3 linked regions of the Homo sapiens genome follow. The protein of the gene in region 3 purifies or fractionates together with the protein of the main gene of each other region. This does not show direct contact. Each region holds a gene or a part of one and is shown on either strand. Other genes may lie near its edges.

Region 1 (7,828 bases), on a different chromosome or scaffold from region 3:
CAGCCTGGGCAACAGAGCAAGACTCTGTCTCAAAAAAACAATGCATTTGGGAAAAGGTACTTTAACATGTTTATACAATCAACATTTTGAAAAATACAATCATCCGTGTTAAACCTTTTGGGAATACAGTGAGGTGTGATATAAATAAATAGCCCTATTTTTGTAAAATTCTTCGTTCATCAGAAACATTCACTGGGTACTAACTGCACTGAGACTGCCTGGACCTGGATTTGACACTCCAGGCTCACCTCCTACCAGCTTGGGCCTTGGGCAAGTTACTTAACCTTTCTGTGCCTGTGAAATGGAAGTAACCATAGGACCCATCTCCTAAGGTTTCTGCAAGGATTAAATGAGAGAATGCACGCAAAGTGCTTAGAACAGCGTTTGGCACTCAACGTTGGCTACTGTGGTGATGGTGAACCGCTCTGTTAGGCAATAAGTACACAAAGAGGATGAGGAAAACAAGAAGCATTCACAGTCCAGTGGGAGATCAGACAAGGAAGCAAATAGTGGCAGATGCCATGTGATAGGTGTAATAATAGAACATAATACCAACTGTGAGAATGTAGAAGAGGGAGCCTCTTGAGTCATCGGTGGGGCGGGCTTCCTGCAGGGCTGGCTGTCCTGGTCTTAGCCTGCTTGCTCCCACTGTTCCCTGGTGCCCCTCTCGTGCCCCAGGCTGTGTCTGAAGCCGGGGGATGGGGCAGACAGAGGAAGCGCCTTCAAGTGCCCTGAGTGCAGTGTGCTAAATCAGGGCTCCCGGCCAAAGCAGTAATTGCCAGCCGCTGAAAGATATTAAGCGCCAGGGAGGAAAACCAAGTTCTCTATGAGGCAGACTTTTCAGAGTTCTTACAGCTTGTAAAAAAAAAAAAAATGTAAATAGTTACCCAGTGAGATATTATTTCATGTTGTTGCCATTAGGGTTTGAGTGTTATGCAGAGAGAGGAGAGAGAGGCGATCATTCAGGCAATTCTGCCTCGGCAAGGACTGAAAACTACACATTAACCCCACACAACAAATCTACCCCCTCTAGGTCTTAACCTGACTCGAGCATTTTTTCCTGGGTGGTGAATTTTATGTAAATTGAAGTAGTGAAAAAATAATCTATACATATTCACAGTTTCTTAAAGGATTTTCTTGATGGCTTCTAGGGAGGGATGGGCTATTTTTTTTTTTTTTTAAGACACATTGCGGGCTGGGCACGGTGGCTCATGCCTGTAATTCCAGCACTTTCGGAGGCTGAGGCCGGCAGATCACTTGAGGTCAGGAGTTCAAGACCAGCCTGGCCAACATGGAGAAACCCCATCTCTACTAAAAATACAAAAATTAGCTAGGCATCATAGCACACGCCTGTAATCCCAGCTACTCGGGAGGCTGAGGCAGGAGAATCGCTTGAACCCGAGAGGCAGAGGTTGCAGTGAGCCGAGATCATGCCACTGCACTCCAGCCTGGGCAAGACAGCAAGACTCCGTCTCAAAAAAAAAAAAAGACACATTGAACTGGAGGCTGGGGAAGGGTTACTTTCATTTCTGTAGAATTCAGAGACAACCTGGGCTCTTCTGCTTGGGTTCCCAGGGCTAAATCTGGTGCTGATGTGGCTGCTCCCCTGAGCAATTGCTCCTCAGACACAAATGATGCAATCGGTTACAGCCATCATTTACCTTCAACTTTCTTTGTGCCAAGCATGAAACAGGTGACATGCATTGTCTGCTTCTGGTCTCCCAACTCTGAAGTGGCCACGCTTCCATTTTACCCTGGAGGAAACCAAAGCTTAGGGAGGTTCACTTGCCCGGGGTCCCCACAGCAGCCTGGTTCTGGGCCTGACTCTCTTCAGCTTGAACTGAGAATGATAGCAACACCTGATGTTTATTAAGCGCCTGACATACCGAACTGTCATTCTTCACCACAGTGTCATGGGGGCACTCTCAGGCAGCCCTCTCCCCTGTCCCATTTTAATGGTGGCCGCTCATTCCCAGGGCCATCTGAGGAGGACCTGGACAGTGGAAGGCCCCTGAGCCACGCATCTGCCACTTTTTTGCAGAGGGAGAACCTGTGTCATATGTCCTGAACAGGGATGTCTTACTCGGGCCTTCCAACCACATCGCCCTCCATAAACACAGCCCATCTGAATACAGAGCCACATTCCCTCCCAGGTGACAAGCCATTCCTCTGAAAACTACACTTGCCTTCAGGCCCCGAGGGCCCCATTTAGTGCTCTGTATAGGTTAGCATTTTAGCTAAGTGAATGGTGAATCCCAATTGTAATAATCATCTAGCAGTGTTTTAATTAGGCCTCTGGCCTGGCTATGCATGGTTTTTCATTTTCCCTCCTAAGACGTTTGGATGGATCCAGCCAAAGAAACCCTGCTGCCCTGACCAGCAGCTCAAAGTGTGTCCCTCCCGCCTTGCATGCTTTCAGAGGTGTGTCCTACCACTTCCCAGGAGGTGGGAGCAGGCCAATCTGTGTGCCCGTCAGTAATTACCACTGGGAGCTCAGGGAGTGAGGTGTTTTTAACAGGACAGTATAGTATTACCTAGGCAAATCCCCCATCACATCCTGCCAGTCTGTCCTTACCTCCTCTTCTCTCCCTTCCTTTCCTTCATTCACTACCTTTTTCCTTCTCTTTTCCTCTCCAAACAGAGAGTGAATATTCTATTGTCCTCTCTCTTCTCCCCTCTCTCCTTTCAGCTGCCTCCTGCTCTGTTTTCCAAATTCCTAAATACCTCTTCCCTCTCCCCTCCCCTTTTCCTCCTGACTTATTTCCCATTAATCATTTCTAACACACATCTGCTCAGGCCCTAGAAGGATCCCTTGGCTCCCTCTCACAGCTGGGCTGGTTACAATAATCAGGGAGACTTTCATCTTTCATAGCCTCCTAGGTCTCCCCTCTGCCCAGCTCCTCCTCCTCTGCGTTCCTGCAAAGGCCAGCCTCTCTGCACCCTGGCTTCCTTCTGCCCTTCCCGCTCTACACAGCAGTCTCCCGAAGGCAAAATGGCTTGTGGGTGGACACAGCCCTGCAGTGGACTTTTACAGGTGGTGTTTGCAGTGATGGCAATGGCTGCCCGCACAGAAGTCGGCATGAGAAGCCTGCCACGATGAAATAAATGAGATCACTCCCTCCCTTTTCATTCCCGCACCCCTCTTGCTGCAATGTGGGATCCATCTCACAGTCAGGGTACCCCTTTCCATTCGGCGTAACATGATTTTACCAAGATTAAAATTGGGGAACATGTAATTACAGCTTGTGTAATTTCTAAGCATTCTATAAGTGCTGCCCAAAATACAGTATGGATCCAGGGAGTGCACTTAGTTTTGGGTATGACTGATACTGCCTGGAAGTGGGGTCTGCTGTCTTCTACTACTGGGCAAGATACAGATTCGTGATAGCTATTTCTTTCTGTTTGAAGAGCTCCTTTGAAATCACCTCTCCCCATCTTGGGTTCTCAGGTCATCTCAAGGCGTCGGTCAGCGCGGCAGAGTCGGGAACCTGCCATCCTAGAGCAATACGCCCCGAGTGACAGCCCTGACAACCGGAGTGATGGATCGGGACTGGAAAAGTGGTGCTGGGAGCCAGGCAGTGACACCAGCGCGCCTCCACTGGCCGCCGAGCGCACGGAGAAGTGGGCTCCCCAGAGTTCGGCACCCAAAGGACCAACTTCGCCTCCGGAAAAGCGGCGGATCCGGAACTTGGATGTCAGGACTATGACTACGTAAAATCTCTGCCCAGGGCGAAGCTAGCAATGCACACTGTATCAGAAAGGCGCAGGGAGTCGGGAAGGGTATTGTTATTTTTAATTAAAAGTTTTTATCCCGAAATTTGCCTGGGGAAAGCAAGTGCTTTTTCCCCCGGAGTGAGAAGGATGGGGGGGCGGAGGGGTTGTGTTGCCGAGCAGCGCTTAGAGAGAGATCCCCCTCCAGGGACACCCGCCTCGCCCGTGATCTCGGTCTCTCCTCGTAGCAGCTGGGCGCGGTACAGTGAGGAACTTCACGCCCCTCAGCAGGACACGGTAAGAAGCCTGTAACACACCAGACACCGAGCCTCTAACGCAGGGCGCAGGCACAGCGCGCACAGCCTGGGGTCCCGCGCTTGGTCGCCGACCATGTCACTCCAGAAGGGAGACAAACTTGCAGGCTTCAGACAAGACGGGCTCAAAGTAGTTGGAGCTGCCTACGCCGCGTCCCGAGAACAGTGGGTGCCTCCGAGGCTCGGGCGCTTCCAAGTGAACACACCAAGGGGAGGCCAAGTAGGGGAAGGAGAGCGGGGCCGAGGAGAGCCGGAGCAGCTCTGGAGAAGGACCCGGGCTCCCGAGGCGAGGCCTGCCCCCAGGCGGCCTCTGGGAGAGGCTTGAACTCCAGCGTCCCAGAGCCCGCGCCGTGCGATCCCTCCCACCCCACCCCACCCCACCCCACCCCACCTCGGACACACACGGCGGGCGGGGTTACAGCCCCCGCCAGCATCACCCCCCACCCACCCAGTGGTGAGAAGGGAGAGAGGAGAGAGAGCGGCCGGAAAGGAGGACGGGGCGCAGAGCTCAGGGTCCCGGAGAAGTCCCGTCCCAGGCGGGGGACCCCAGGGCGAGGAAGGCCCAGTCGGGGGGAGGGGAGGAATCCCGGGAGCGGCCGAGACCGAGGCAGCGGCGGCGCGCGGCGCGGCCCCTTTAAGGCTCTCCCCGCCCACCGATGGAGCCGGCCTCAGCCCGCCGCTCTCCCCGCCCCGGGGTCCCGGCGAGAGCTGCGATTGGGCGGGCGCGGCGATCCCTTTGAAGTGTGGCTGCCGATCGCGGCTATTTGACGTGCGGCTCGAGGAAGGCGAAGGTTTTTGTGTTGCTAGCCGGGGCCAGCGGCGGTGGCGGCGGCGGCGGAGGCGTCGGTGGAGGAGGGGAGGCGGCGAGGAGGCGCAGCTCCCGCTGCACCGCGATCGACGCTGCGGAGCGAGCCCACCCGCCCCGGGAGCTCGCCTCCCCGGTGCTCCCCCGCCCTCCCCGCCCCCCCAGCGGCGCTGCCTCCTCCAAATGAGCGATTCGCCCGCTGGATCTAACCCAAGGACACCCGAAAGCAGCGGCAGCGGCAGCGGCGGCGGCGGGAAGAGGCCGGCGGTGCCGGCAGCGGTGTCCCTCTTGCCACCGGCGGACCCCCTGCGCCAGGCGAACCGGCTCCCGATCAGGGTCCTGAAGATGCTGAGCGCTCACACCGGTCACCTCCTGCACCCGGAGTACCTGCAGCCGCTGTCCTCCACTCCCGTCAGCCCCATTGAGGTCAGTCCCCGGCCGCTGCCCCCGGGCGCCGGCCCCATTCCTCCCACCGCGACCGGGACCCTGACCCAGCTCCCAGCGCCCCGGGGCTCGGTGCGACACCCAAGTCTGGTCACGCTGGCGGGCTGAGTGAGGAGGGGAAGAAAACCGAGGGATCAGAGCCCACCAGGGCTTCCCCAGGCTTCCCCGTGGAAGGGTCTCCTTCCACGCTCGCCCTTCGGAGCTCCGTGTTTTCTCTCGGATTGGATTTGCTCCTGGAGTCCCCTCTGGGTCCTTTACTTTTCCTCTGATCCCCAGTTTCCAGCCAGGAGTTGGTCTCTGCTGGGTCTTCCCCGCCCCCCACGCCGGGCTGTTTTCTTTGAAGCCCTGGCTGCCCGGGTCCCACTTCGCCTCTGTCCCATCCGGTGAGGGCGCACGGCGCCCTGGCGCTCCCGATCCCGGATCTTTCTTCCTGCCTCTTCCCTGGGTGCCCTCCCCGGGAGGGAGGGGCTACGGAGAGAGCGCCAACTGCAGCCCCTCCTTTAGAATCCGCGCTCCCCTCTCCTACCCCGCGGCGCCATCGCCAGAAACCCGTCCCAAGCGAAGTTCCCCCAAACTAAAGGAATAAGTTTTTTCCTGGGCCTGGAGGAGGGGGACATTAGAGGGAAGTGGCGAGTCACAGCCCCGACTCCAGAGACGTCACCTTCTCCCGCAGGGGTCCTGGGTGAACTCCTTCCGCAGGGCCTGCGGCGCACCCCGGGACCCAGCGGCAGTGTGGGCGCAGTTCCGCCAGCTGCCGCGCCCGGCCCGGCCCTCGCTCGCAGACCCTCTCCCCAGGCCCGCCCCGCCCCGTGGCGCCGCCGCCCAGCTCCCCGGGCGCCCCCGCTCGCCCCGCAGGCCTCTGAGTCTCACTCCTTCTCCCTCCCCCTGCTTCTGTCTCCCACAGCTGGACGCCAAGAAGAGCCCCTTGGCGCTGCTGGCTCAGACCTGCTCGCAGATCGGCAAGCCGGACCCGCCGCCCTCCTCCAAACTCAACTCGGTGGCGGCGGCGGCCAACGGGCTGGGAGCGGAGAAGGACCCCGGCCGCTCAGCCCCGGGCGCCGCCTCCGCAGCCGCGGCCCTGAAGCAGCTGGGGGACTCACCGGCCGAGGACAAGTCCAGCTTCAAGCCCTACTCCAAGGGCTCCGGCGGCGGCGACTCCCGCAAAGACAGCGGCTCCTCCTCGGTGTCTTCCACCTCCTCCTCGTCCTCCTCGTCCCCGGGAGACAAGGCGGGCTTCAGGGTCCCCAGCGCCGCCTGCCCGCCCTTTCCCCCGCATGGAGCGCCGGTCTCCGCATCCTCGTCCTCGTCGTCGCCCGGCGGCTCCCGCGGCGGCTCCCCGCACCACTCTGACTGCAAGAACGGCGGCGGGGTTGGCGGCGGGGAGCTGGACAAGAAAGACCAGGAGCCCAAGCCCAGCCCGGAGCCGGCAGCCGTGAGCCGCGGCGGCGGTGGGGAGCCCGGGGCGCACGGTGGCGCCGAGTCCGGGGCCTCCGGGCGCAAGTCCGAGCCGCCCTCGGCGCTGGTGGGGGCCGGCCACGTGGCGCCGGTGTCTCCCTACAAGCCGGGCCACTCGGTGTTCCCGCTGCCGCCCTCCAGCATTGGCTACCACGGCTCCATCGTGGGCGCCTACGCCGGCTACCCGTCTCAGTTCGTGCCTGGCCTGGATCCTAGCAAGTCCGGCCTCGTGGGAGGCCAGCTGTCTGGGGGCCTGGGCCTGCCGCCGGGCAAGCCCCCCAGCTCCAGCCCGCTCACCGGGGCCTCCCCGCCCTCCTTCCTGCAGGGATTATGCCGCGACCCCTATTGCTTGGGAGGTTACCACGGCGCCTCGCACCTCGGCGGCTCCAGCTGCTCCACCTGCAGCGCGCACGACCCTGCCGGGCCCAGCCTGAAGGCGGGGGGCTACCCGCTGGTGTACCCCGGGCACCCGCTGCAGCCCGCCGCGCTCTCGTCCAGCGCCGCCCAGGCCGCGCTCCCCGGCCACCCGCTCTACACCTACGGCTTCATGCTGCAGAACGAACCGCTGCCGCACAGCTGCAACTGGGTGGCAGCCAGTGGGCCGTGCGACAAGCGCTTCGCCACCTCGGAGGAGCTGCTCAGCCACCTACGGACCCACACGGCCCTGCCGGGAGCCGAGAAACTTCTGGCCGCCTACCCCGGGGCCTCGGGCCTGGGCAGCGCCGCCGCCGCCGCCGCCGCCGCCGCCTCCTGCCATCTGCACCTCCCCCCGCCCGCCGCCCCCGGCAGCCCCGGGTCGCTGTCCTTGCGGAATCCACACACTTTGGGCCTAAGCCGGTACCACCCCTATGGCAAGAGCCACTTATCCACAGCGGGGGGCCTGGCCGTGCCGTCCCTCCCCACAGCCGGACCCTACTATTCGCCATACGCGCTGTATGGACAGAGACTAGCTTCAGCCTCGGCGCTGGGATACCAGTAACTACAGCTCTTCCTCCACCCCAGCCCCCTCACCCTCCTCCCTCTCCCTCCTCCTCCCTCCCCACCTGCCGTCGCCGCTGCAACCTCCACTACTGCTTGACCCTGCCGGGATTCCCCACCC
Region 2 (7,030 bases), on a different chromosome or scaffold from region 3:
TATCGCACTGTGGTGAAGTCTAGGTTTTAATGTAACCATCACCCAAATGTTGTATATTGTACTCATGCACATTTTTTTAACAGGCATTTTACATTTACTTTTAGTATTCTAGCCAGTTCCAATCTTACTCTTTAGCTCACACCACACAGCCATAAAGCAAGAGCAGACTGCAAGAGCTCACCCAGACACCGTTCCTAACACCTGGATGGGTGCAACTGCAATTACCAACTCACTTGTTTATATGTTCCCATGGAAATGTATTACTATAAATATTTCAGGTCCCATGATAAACCACTAAAGCTACAACCTGGAACTGCACTGAAAAATAGTTAACATATGAGCAACTGTCTTAGAATAAAATGTACCATGAAAAAGTTGAAACAGACTTACACAGTTACATAGGCATATTCTCCACAGAACTGCTGTTGAACAATATTGCGCACATCTGGATTCTTTTGTTTAGACAAAGTATCTTCCAATAGAGACATAAAGAGCTTTGAAAATTCTTGAGCATCCTACAAGTTTAGGTTAATGAAAAGAAAAATCATATCTTGCTTTTCAACTTCTACTACAAATAGTAATACATTCAACATTCCAGAAACTACCTATACTTTCAACTTAGCATTTTCAAACAGGGGCTACAGCTATGTTCAATCAGTTTGTGCCCCCATATGAATTTCCATAAATGGAATCAAGTATAATGTGTAAACTATTGGACAGTAAATAAAGGTTTTCATTCAAAATAGAAAAAATTTAATTTTTAAAAAGCATTCTACTTCATCTCCCTTTATAAACATGCTTAGGATGTTTGGGTACCTCTGAATATTTAAAAAAAAAAAAAAATTCAGTTCTTACCTGCTGTTGTCCAGTGTCCAGGCCCAAGGCTTTAACAAATCCTGATGGATCAATGTATCGCCTATTACTGTTTTGCAACAAGGCAAACAAGTACTGGAGATGCTCACAAATTGTTTGAGGCTCATAATCTATTAAAACAAAAATATAGATTTGGGGTTTTTTAAGGTGCTACTTTTCTTTCCAAAAAATGGTACTTCCTCTTCACATGAGAACATAAACATCTCTACATCCAAACTAGATTAATACTTTATTATCATTTTAAAACTTTAAAAGAAATAGGCTGAGCACGGTGGCTCATGCCTGTAACCCCAGCACTTTGGGAGGCCAAAGCAGGCAGATCACTTGAGATCAGAAGCTTGAGACAAGCCTGGCCAATATGGAGAAACCCCGTCTCCACTAAAAAAAATACAAATATTAGCCGGGTGTGGTGGTGCACACATGTAATCCCAGCTACTTGGGAGGCTGAGACACGAGCATCTATTGAGCGCGGGAGGAAGAGGCTGCAGTGAGGTGAGATCGCCAACAAAGTGAGACTCTCAAAAACAAAAAACAAGGCTGGGCACGGTGGCTCACACTCGTAATCCCCGCACTTTGGGAGGCAGAGGCGGGCGAATAATCTGAGGTCAGGAGTTCAAGACCAGCCTGGCCAACATGGTAAAACCCTGTCTCTACTAAAAATACAAAAAGTAGCTGGGTGTGGTGGCGAGCACCTGTAATCCCTGCTACTTGGGAGGCTGGGGTTCAAGGATAGCTTGAACCCAGGAGGTGGAGGTTGTGGTGAGCAGAGATCATGCCACTGCACTCCAGCCTGGATGACAGAGCGAGACTCTTTAAAAAAAAAAAAAAAAAAAAAAAAACTTTAAAAGACAGGGCTGGCGCAGTGGCTCAAGGCTGGAAGCAGTGGTTCACGCCTGTAATCCCAGCACTTTGGGAGGCCATGGCTGGCGGATCACAAGGTCGGGAGTTCCAGACCAGCCTGGCCAACATGGCGAAACCCCGTCTCTATTAAAAATACAAAAATTAGTGGGGCATGGTAGTACACGCCTGTAATCCCAGCTACTCGGGAGGCTGAGGCAGGAGAATCACTTGAACCCGACAGGCGGAGGTTGTAGTTAGCCAAGATTGTGCCACTGCACTCCAGCCTGGGCAACAGAGTGAGACTCCATCTGGGAGGAAAAAAAAAAAGAAATAGAATTAGCAACCATGTTTTGTGGAAGTCATGAGGCAGCCAGGACTGTCCATATACACTCCCCAAAGGCAAGAGCCTACCTGTATTAAAGCAACAACAGCAATCATGACTACAGTGTCTAGTCATGATTTTTTAAAGTCCAGTTAATGTGGACTTGGGATCTCAAGCACAGCAATTCACACTTAAGTGAAGAATACAAAACCGTAGAATTTTAGAGTTGAAAGTTTTAATGAGCTAGTGCAGGGAATGGAAGCAGAAAGCATGGATATTGAGAGCCCAGAAGACAGAAGTCTTATCTTCTTTAAGTTATTAACTTATTGCTTCTCAGCTCCAAATCTACCCTTCTTTGCCTGCTCAGTGATGAGAGATGGGCTCTGCAAATACTTCTCCTTTGCCAGTTATCAAGAAGGTAAGGCTTCTCAGTGAAGGGCACTGCAGGGTTTGGTTGTGCCTCTGTCACCAGCCTGCTGCAGATCAGCTTCCTCCAGGGCTCCAGGTTCCTGCCCCTAACAGTAGTCAGCAGCTTACCCAGCACCTCTTCTGATAGCTTCACAGTACAGTGCCTCCAGTGAGGCATTTCCTCTCGAATGACCACCCTGTGAATGGCCTCCCGGACACTCTCTCAGGTGACTCTGTAGGGGGTTCCAGGGCCCAGCACCTTCTCATGGACAGTTTCTAGTAGGGATTCCCAGGGAGGCATCTCAGCACCTTTTCAGCCACCCAGTGCATCCCAGCAGTGTCCAAAGAGGTCTGGATCTCAAGCCTGGGCCATGGGGGTGACAGACTATCCGTTGGATGTTCTCTTTCAGCCCCAGGGATACAGGTTGTTCCCTGTATCTGCTGTCCTTGTATTCTTTAAAATCCTCTTTAATCTTTAACTCTTATTAATCAATTCCTCATTTCTCTAATTAATTCTGTTATTAATTCTCAACTTTCCCTTTTCAAATTATTCTGTAGCTTCTGTCTTCTAACTGGACTATATTTATCTCCTTACTACCAACTGTGGCTTTCAGCAAGTCAATATATCATCTTCAAAATAAAGATAAAATATTACTCCTTGGCCTGCAAAAGCATTGCAGGCCAGTAAAAGCTATTCAAGGCCAGGTGCTGTGGCTCATGCCTGTAATCCCAGCACTCTGGGAGACCAAGGAAGGTGGATCGATTGAACCCAGGAGTTTGAGACCAGCCTGGGCAACATGGTAAAATGCTGTCTCCAAAAAAAACACAAAAATTAGCAAGAGGTGGTGGTGCATGCCTGTAGTTCCAACTACTCGGGGGGGCTCTGGCAGGAGGATTGCTTGAGCCTGGGAGGTTGAGGCTACAGTGAGCTGTGCTCGCACCAGCCTGGGCGAAAAAGTGAGATCTTGTCTCAAAAAACAAACAAACAATAAAAAAAAACCTTTTCTGTTCAAATTATTGTGTAGCTTCTGTCTTCTAATCAGACTCTGAATATTTGTATCCTTACTACCAATTGTGGCTTTCAGCAAGTCAATATACCATCTGTAAAATAAAGATAAAATATTACTCCTTGGGGTGCAAAGGTTTTGCAGGCTGGTAAAAGCTATTCAAGGCCTGGCACCATGGTTCATGCCTGTAATCCAGCACTTTTGGAGACCGAGACAGGAGGACTGCTTAAGGCCAGAAGTTCAAGACCAGCCTGGGCAACAGAGCAAGACACTGTCTCTATAAAAAAAATAAGTTTAGGCCAGGCACAGTGGCTCACACCTGTAATCCCAGCACTCTGGGAAGCCGAGGCGGGTGGATCACCTGAGGTCGGGAGTTCAAGACCAGCCTGACCAACATGGAGAAACCCCGTCTCTACTAAAAATACAAAATTAGCCGGGCGTGGTGGTGCACGCCTGTAATCCCAGCTACTCGGGAGGCTGAGGCAGGAGAATTGCTTGAACCTGAGAGGCGGAGGTTGTGGTGAACCGAGATTGTGCCATTGCACTAGAGCGTGGGCAACAAGTGTGAAACTGTCTTAAAAAAATAATAATAATAATAATAAAATAAGTTTAGGCTAGACACAGTGGCTCACACCTGTAGTCGCAGCACTTTGGAAGGCCGAGGCAGCCACATCACTTGAGGTCAGGAGTTCGAGACTAGCCTGGCCAACATAGTGAAACGCTGTCTCTACTAAAAATACAAAAACTAGCCAGGCGTGGTGGCGGGCGCCTGTAATCCCAGCTTCTCAAGAGGCTGAGGCAGGAGAATCGCTTCAGCCCAGGAGGCAGACGTTGCAGTGAACCGAGATGGCGCCACTTCACTCTGGCTTGGGAAACAGAGGAAGACTCAAAAAAAAAAAAAAAAAAAAGTTTAAAAAAATGTTCAGGAAGAGAGCTCTCCCCCACCCCTTTCCACCCACCTTTTTCTTCTTGGATGCCGTCTCCCAGCATGTAGTCACTACAAGTGCTTGGACATAAGTAGAGTGCCTGCCGAAGCTCCAAGTTGAGAAACCACACTTGAAGAAATGTGTTGACATAACAAGTGGCTCCAAGGTTAGTCAGGCCCACAAATGAGTTCTACAAAAATACAAAATTCATAATTATAAAACCCATTTTCCTTTAAACAACCAATTTCTAAGCATTATTCTTAAATTTTCAGATTAAAAATGTGTAAGACCGTCACAACCAACATGGTATAGCCACCTTAAGTTTCTCTTGGCTGGAGGTGGGGCATAATTTTCATGAAAGCCCCATTTTGGGTTGACCACAGGAGTGAAAAAGACTTCGGACGGCATCACTGCTCATCTCTAGCATATCGTCTTCTCCAGCCACTTAAATCTAAAATTAGAACAGTGGATTCTAGAAAAGATCGGTTTTGAACAAGCGTATATAGGTTTTATGTTTTCTGTATTTCTAAACTGCCAGCATTCAGCAGAATGACAAAGTAAAACTTATGCAGAAAACTTCCTTTATATTCTAGAGATTTTAAAGATTGGCGGTGGTAGAGGGAACTGGCTGCAACTTTTTCCAAAGATAAGGTTGGGAATTCCTGACCTTACAAAGAATTATTATTTTATTAAAATATCTATATATAACAAACTTGGATATTTCGTGAATGCTAAGATTTATGTCTAGAAAATTTAATGTATATTTTTAAAAAGCAAAATTATATATAAAATACAAGCCCTAGAAAGCAAAGTGCTATCATCATGAGTTTGTTCCCTTGAATTACCATCTCCTTTAAAGAGGCGTTAAGATTTCAAAATAAAACATGCAATGTTAAAGCAAACATAGAATCAGCATTCAAACTAAAACTATTATTTAAAGGCTTACTGAATTACGCAGCTGCCTGTTTTAAAGCATATCATTAAGAAGTGTTCCAATTCAAGTGGCTTAGAGTCTTAAGTTCTACTGCTTATCTTAAAGCTGCACAGGTTACCTGAAATCAGTAGAGTTTTCTGATCACAGGCCCAAAACAAAAGCAAAAACAAAAACAAAAAACAGCATATAGCAATCGCTTAAAAAATGATGGTTTACCTTTTTTCTCCTCTCACAGTTGGGATCATCGATGTTATGAAAACTATTTTCATCTATTTCTCCTAACCAAATATGCTCACCAATACCAACCAAGCAATTCGGATTTCCTTTGCAGTTTCGTCTAAGGGGAAAAAAAAAACCTTTAATTTTTAAAAGACCATAGTTTCATGAGAGACAAACAAATTAAAACTAAAATGAGATACCACTTCTCATCTATAAATTAGCAAAACTGAGAAAGTATAAGACACTCAGTTTGTGAGGGTGTGGAGAAGAAAGCATGCATATACTGCTGGTAGAAATGCAGTCACTAACAAAACTACATAGACAACTACCTTTAGACCTAGCAATCTCATTTCTGAGGATTTACTGTTCCTTAGGCTATACCTCCAACAATGCAAAATCTCACTCATAAGGTTATTCATTACAGCACTGTCTGTTAATTGCAAAATATTGGAAGCCACCCAAATGCCCAAAAATAGACAATATGGTACATCTATATGGCAGAGTACTATGCAACTGTAAAACACACACACACACACACACACACACACACACACACACAGCATGAAAAAGATATCTATGAACAGATATAAGGTAATTTATAAATCCAGGACACATTATTAAGTAAAAAAAGCAAAATGCAAAGGAGTATCTCTAGTATACTGTTATGTGTAAGAAATATATAAGGAAAATATACATGTACATATTTCTGCTCATTTTGTACAAAAAGAAATACAGAAAGGAAAAACAAGAGACTAATGAAATTGGTTACCTACAGAGCATGAGTGGGAATAAGGTTAAAAGAAAATACACCTTTTCGGCCGGACACAGTGGCTCACACCTGCAATCCCAGCACTTTGGGAGGCTGAGGCAGGCGGATAACAAGGTCAGGAGTTCGAGACCAGCCTGAAACCCTGTCTCTACTAAAAATACAAAAATTAGCCGGGCGTGGCGGTGCGGGCCTGTAATCCCAGCTACTTGGGAGGTTGTGGCAGAAGAATCCCTTGAACCCAGGACACGGAGGTTGCAGGGAGCCGAGATTACACCACTGCACTCTGGCCTGGGCGACAGAGCAAGACTCTGTCTTGGAAAAAATGAATGAATGAATGAATGAATGAATGAATGAATGAAAAGGAAATGTACCTTTTCATATAATGAACAATTTGGGACCATGTGACTGTTTCTCACACTACTTCACGCATGCACACAAACAAAAATAAATCAACTGGCTAGGCGTGGTGGTTCACGCCTGTAATCCTAGCCCTTTGGGAGGCCAAGGCAGGAGGATCACTTGAGGTTAGGAGTTTTGAGACCAGCCTGGCCAACATGGTGAAACCCTGTCTCTACTAGAAATACAAAAATTAGCCAGGTGTGGTGGTACACGTTTGTAACTCCAGCTACAGGCTGAAGACTGGAGGCTGATGCAGGAGAATTGCTTGAACCCAGGAGGCGGAGGTTGCAGTGAGCCAAGATCGTGCCACTGCACTCCAGCCTGGGCAACAGA
Region 3 (4,862 bases):
GATTGCCTAACAATATTACTGCAAACAATGGAGATTTAAGTAGCTATCTTAATTTTGCCAACATGGGAACAACTGATAGGAAAAGAAAAAGAAGCTAGTGGTCTTGCTGAGGTGCACTCCATTCATGGCCAAGGGTGATTTCTGGTTATATCAAGTACCCCATTCCTCTCTCACATCTCCTACCTAGAAAGACTACCTTATTAGACACAACGAACCATTACTCAGTTGGCATTATAGAAAATAGCAACAGTCCTTGCCAGAATCTCAACTCTAAAATCTTTTTTTAAGCCCTGTGTGTGTGTGTGCATGTATATATACATATATATATATACACATACATATATACACATATACATATATATGTGTGTATATACACACACACACATATATACATATACACACATTTCCCCATGCTGAATCAGAGATTTACATAAAACATCCTGCTATGCTCAGGGGAAAGATACTTGTAGTGAGTTAAATTATTAGTTTTACAAAAAAGGCAAGGTAGATTAGACACCAAACACCACAGTTGGTTAGAAATATTTATTATCCCCTCCCCCCACATACAGATTACTTCTCAGAAACATGAAGATATTATCCATGTCCTCATCAATTACAGTTTGTAGAAAATAAACTTAACTCATATCCCATCAACAATGTATTTCTATCATTTTTTTAAACAATAGCCATTTCATTTTTCCATGTTAGTTCCAGAATAGCTTCAAGTTTTATCTTTTGGATCGAATCCAGTCAATCTTTGTTTATAGGTAACAGTTTCCTAACAGATCCCCTCCCCCAACCCCTAAAAAAATTCTATATCCTAAGTGATAAACTCTTCTTGTACATTCAGCAAACTTTATATTGGAAAAGAAAAAGAATAATTGAGATAGGTATTTACTTTCGTGCACAGTAATAAATCTAGCTGAGCTGCTACACCTTGCTTTGCAAAGATGTTTACATAAAATAAATCATCTCTTATCAAGTTACAATGGTAATTTCTTGAAATGTAGATATGAAAGCTATACACTTAATCCACTGAAATTTCCTTCTAATTTTTTAATCTGTAATTAAACCATCACCATAAGGACAAGCTTCATCCCAAGATGTTCCCCCTTTTCCCCTCAGCTATTTCTATCAACTTGAATCCTCTCTCAGATCATGTAAAGAGATACATTAAAAGCACAGGAAAAAAAATGTTTTAGCTTGCTGACATAATGCCCTTAAGTTTGCTGACATAATGCCCACATTTTAACTTTAAAATGTAAAATCAAAGTTAAAGCATCACTTAATTCATACAGTACATTATTAATCAACAGTGTCCCACCAACTCAGAAGTTTCCTAAATTGGCTGCTTTCTCTGCATTTAGTAAGTTTATAACCAATGACTCAATCAAAGAATGTGCTTGTAATAGGCTGCTGGTTTAATTTTAGAATCAAAAGTTTTATATTGGGCTACTTTCAAATATAGAAATGCTATGAGTGACATATGAACTATTAATTTTGTTTCCCATTACCTACAGGAAGAATTTATTCAAATAAAATTTTACAAGACAAAATGCAAATCTATATACCTATATAGAGATGTATATATGTATATATTGAACCTAACTAAAGTTTTATAAGCAATACTAACATAGTTCTGGTTACACATTCCTAAAGACTTAATTGTTTTAAAGATACATGTTATAAAGAGGCTTATGCAAAAGGCAAAAATTAAGAATCAACATGATCTTTTGAGGTTTTCATTACTTCAAAAAGCTGTTTCTATCACCCATAGAAGAAAACTATGCATTTGTTTATCTTAGGAAAAAAAATTATAAAAAGATAATGCTATCATGTAAAGATTCACAAAAACTATACTGTATATCCCATAAGAGTTATACCTACTTAAGGTAAATCACAATTATGGTTTATATTGTACTACAGACATCACCATCGCCTTTCCTCTTTAATAATGAGAGGGTTTAACTTTTTTTTAACTTACTTAACTAGTGCCACAGTAAATCAAGTCCCAGTAGCAACAAGTTAAACAAGATTACAAAATAAGGCATTCTGCTCACACGTCATGAAAGTAACAGGCTTAGTACAGTAAAGCGGGCTGTTATCATTTTTGCAATTTTATATAATCCAAACATTATACAGAAGGCAATCTTTACCAAAAAATCCAATTAATTGCTATTTTCCAGGTAAACAGGAAAACATACATAAAATCCTCAACTTTGGCTATTTCTCCTACTACCATAAACAGATGCTGATCTTATCTACTTAATCAAGTCCACTATTAGAAATGTGGATAAAATGTCTTTGACTATACCATTTCTAAGCCTGTAGGTCACACACTAGATGATTTTTCAAATTATAAATTAAATCTAATATGACAAAATCCCTGTAGTGTTATTTAGGAAAAAAGAAGTGGACTCAGAACATACACACGCACGCACACACACACATGCCATCATATTAAACAGTTGCTTTAAACATTAATTAGTTCTTCAGAAAGAATAAAAATTCTTTAACATCAAGCTGCAGCATGTGTATAAGGGGCAGCAATGCAACCTTTCTCAGCACAAGGTAAGAATATGAATCAACTTTTAAACAACTAGTACCCTGAACCAAAGATTTTGCCAAAGATGAACTCTAAAATACATGTTTTTTTTTTTTGTCGTTGAAATTTGGATTCAATTGCCTGTTGCACTTTTACATTAAGTGTTGCTTAAATAAACAAAAATAGAGCATAAATTCAATATTCTACTGTCTAAACATTTTAAAGCAATGGTTATGCCATCATAAACAAGTAAAATGCACCTAATTTGGGTCTTTTGACACCTCTTGTTTTAAGTTTCCTGTATGATAAAGTTCTTCACAGTTTAAAATATTGTGAAGAAATATATTTAACTATATTCACATACATATTATGTACATGTACTATGTCTTTGTTGTACCCATAAACTTTGAATACGTGTGTATCAGTAGGATACCCCACACATATGGCAGGAACCCTGAATAATATGGTTGGTGTGGACTGAAATGATTTCCCAGAAAGGCTTAGAAATAAGAAAAGAATATTATTATGAATAATTGTAATAACAGAAATTTTACCTTATTTACATAGTGCCTATCTCCCAAGAGGTAAATATGCTTTACAGACATTTTTTAGTAACTCTGTGAGGTGGGGCATTGGGGACACCATCAATTCTCATTTTCCGCAAGCAAGTAAACTACCCAGGACCACACACTTTAGCAGTGGTAGAGTAAATACAGACATGGAGATCTCCTAAATCCCGAAGTCTCCAATTACCAGATCAAATAGTCTTGTGGTAGTAATAAGATTTCCATCATTCAACAGAACTCCTACCACAAAGGATTAATTTCTAAGTCCTCATACACTTGTGATTGTGCGTTATATTGATAACCACAGGGAGATCAAAATGGTTTTTGGTTTTGGCAGATGAAAAAGTCTAACATTCAGTGTGATTATACTTCAGTGTAACTTCTCCAGTTTAAGTGCGACACAGCTGATTGGTCTATCAGGGAGATGCAGTCAACGTCTAATCATGGCTGAAGAGTTCTCAATCCGAACAGCTATTGCATGATTACAGAGATAGCCTACAATCTTTTATTGTCTTAAAGGTCTTTTCTATCTCCACATATGGTATACACATATAAATATGCATTTTAGCACAAAATGTACAGTTACCATCAGTTCATGTTTAAATAAACAAAGGCCTTAAGGGTGAACTTTAAAGGCCAAGAGCTCCTCAGAGTGCATGTTGTTTAAAGATCGAAGATCTGGCAACTTTAGAAGCAGTTTTGTAAAAATAGAGGCCTCATTTGGATGGTTTTTCATTATTAAGGTCCTTAGTGCACGAATGAGAGTTTCCTGCAAAGCCTCCACAGAGTTGACGTTTTCTATTCCAGATCGATCTAAGAGAGATCAGGAATAGGGAAATAGGAAAAACAGGATAAATTATTAACATTAAATATAAATAAAATTCTTGCTTATCAGTGTCACTAACGAATAGAAAGCAAGGTTTTATACATCTGAATAAAGGCAAAAGTTGACAAATTTCTCAAAATCTCAGTAACAAATCGTTAGCTAGTTACTATATTATAAAGCATATATATCACATAAAACATTTGATCAATCAAAATTCTTTACTGTTAAGAATTTTTATTCACAAGAACATAGAGGTTCTGACTTTTTAAAATTAGATGTCATCTGATTTCAACTGCTTCTAATTAGCAAAATAAAATAATGTAGTATATAAACATATTTTCAATACATATGGAATACACTCCCATTTGTATGTCACCATGTGTGGTAGGCAGCCCCTAAAATGGCCTCCAATGATCCCTTCATCCTGGTATTCGCACCCTTGCGCAACCTCCTCCTACTAAGTGGACCTAGACTTACTAACTTCTAATGAAAAAAAATATGGCAGAATTGATAGGATGTCCGTTCTGAGATTAGCTTACAAGAAACTGTGGCCTCCATCTTAGGTACGCTCTTGCTCACTTACTCTGAGAAAAGCTGCTGCCATGCTGTGAGCCACCCTGTGGAGAGGCCCACATGGCAAGGAACTAAGAGTGGGCTCTAGCCAACAGTCAGCAAGCAACTGAGGTGCTCAGTCCAACAGCTTGCAAGGAACTCAATCTTGCCGATAACTACATACAACTGAAAGCAGATCCTTCCCTACTCAAGCCTTCATATGAGACCACAGCCCTGTCCACAGCTTAACTATAACCTCCTAAGAAACCCTGAGTCAGAGGCACATATCATATCCTATCTCTCATATCATATCTTAACCCTCAAAAACTGTGAGATTAAATAAATGTTTGCATTTGTAAGCCCCTGAATTTTG

Evidence for each region. The genes of interacting proteins can lie anywhere in the genome.
Region 1: the proteins of NR1D2 (region 3) and ZNF703 purify together in Homo sapiens (affinity purification with mass spectrometry; 2 studies listed by BioGRID and IntAct, with this or other methods). This does not show direct contact.
Region 2: the proteins of NR1D2 (region 3) and USP48 purify together in Homo sapiens (affinity purification with mass spectrometry; 3 studies listed by BioGRID and IntAct, with this or other methods). This does not show direct contact.

Annotation. Positions count from the first base shown.
Region 1 is NC_000008.11:37,690,967-37,698,794, forward strand, and holds the start of ZNF703 (zinc finger protein 703), read left to right. Parts: upstream 1-4,815; 5' UTR 4,816-5,013; coding exon 5,014-5,256; intron 5,257-6,178; coding exon 6,179-7,708; 3' UTR 7,709-7,828. UniProt on the Homo sapiens protein: Transcriptional corepressor which does not bind directly to DNA and may regulate transcription through recruitment of histone deacetylases to gene promoters. Regulates cell adhesion, migration and proliferation.
Region 2 is NC_000001.11:21,752,137-21,759,166, forward strand, and holds part of USP48 (ubiquitin carboxyl-terminal hydrolase 48), read right to left. Parts: intron 5,648-7,030; coding exon 5,527-5,647; intron 4,569-5,526; coding exon of another isoform or gene 4,567-4,568; coding exon 4,410-4,566; intron 984-4,409; coding exon 856-983; intron 516-855; coding exon 391-515; intron 1-390.
Region 3 is NC_000003.12:23,976,285-23,981,146, reverse strand, and holds the end of NR1D2 (nuclear receptor subfamily 1 group D member 2), read right to left. Parts: intron 3,925-4,862; coding exon 3,728-3,924; 3' UTR 530-3,727; downstream 1-529. UniProt on the Homo sapiens protein: Transcriptional repressor which coordinates circadian rhythm and metabolic pathways in a heme-dependent manner.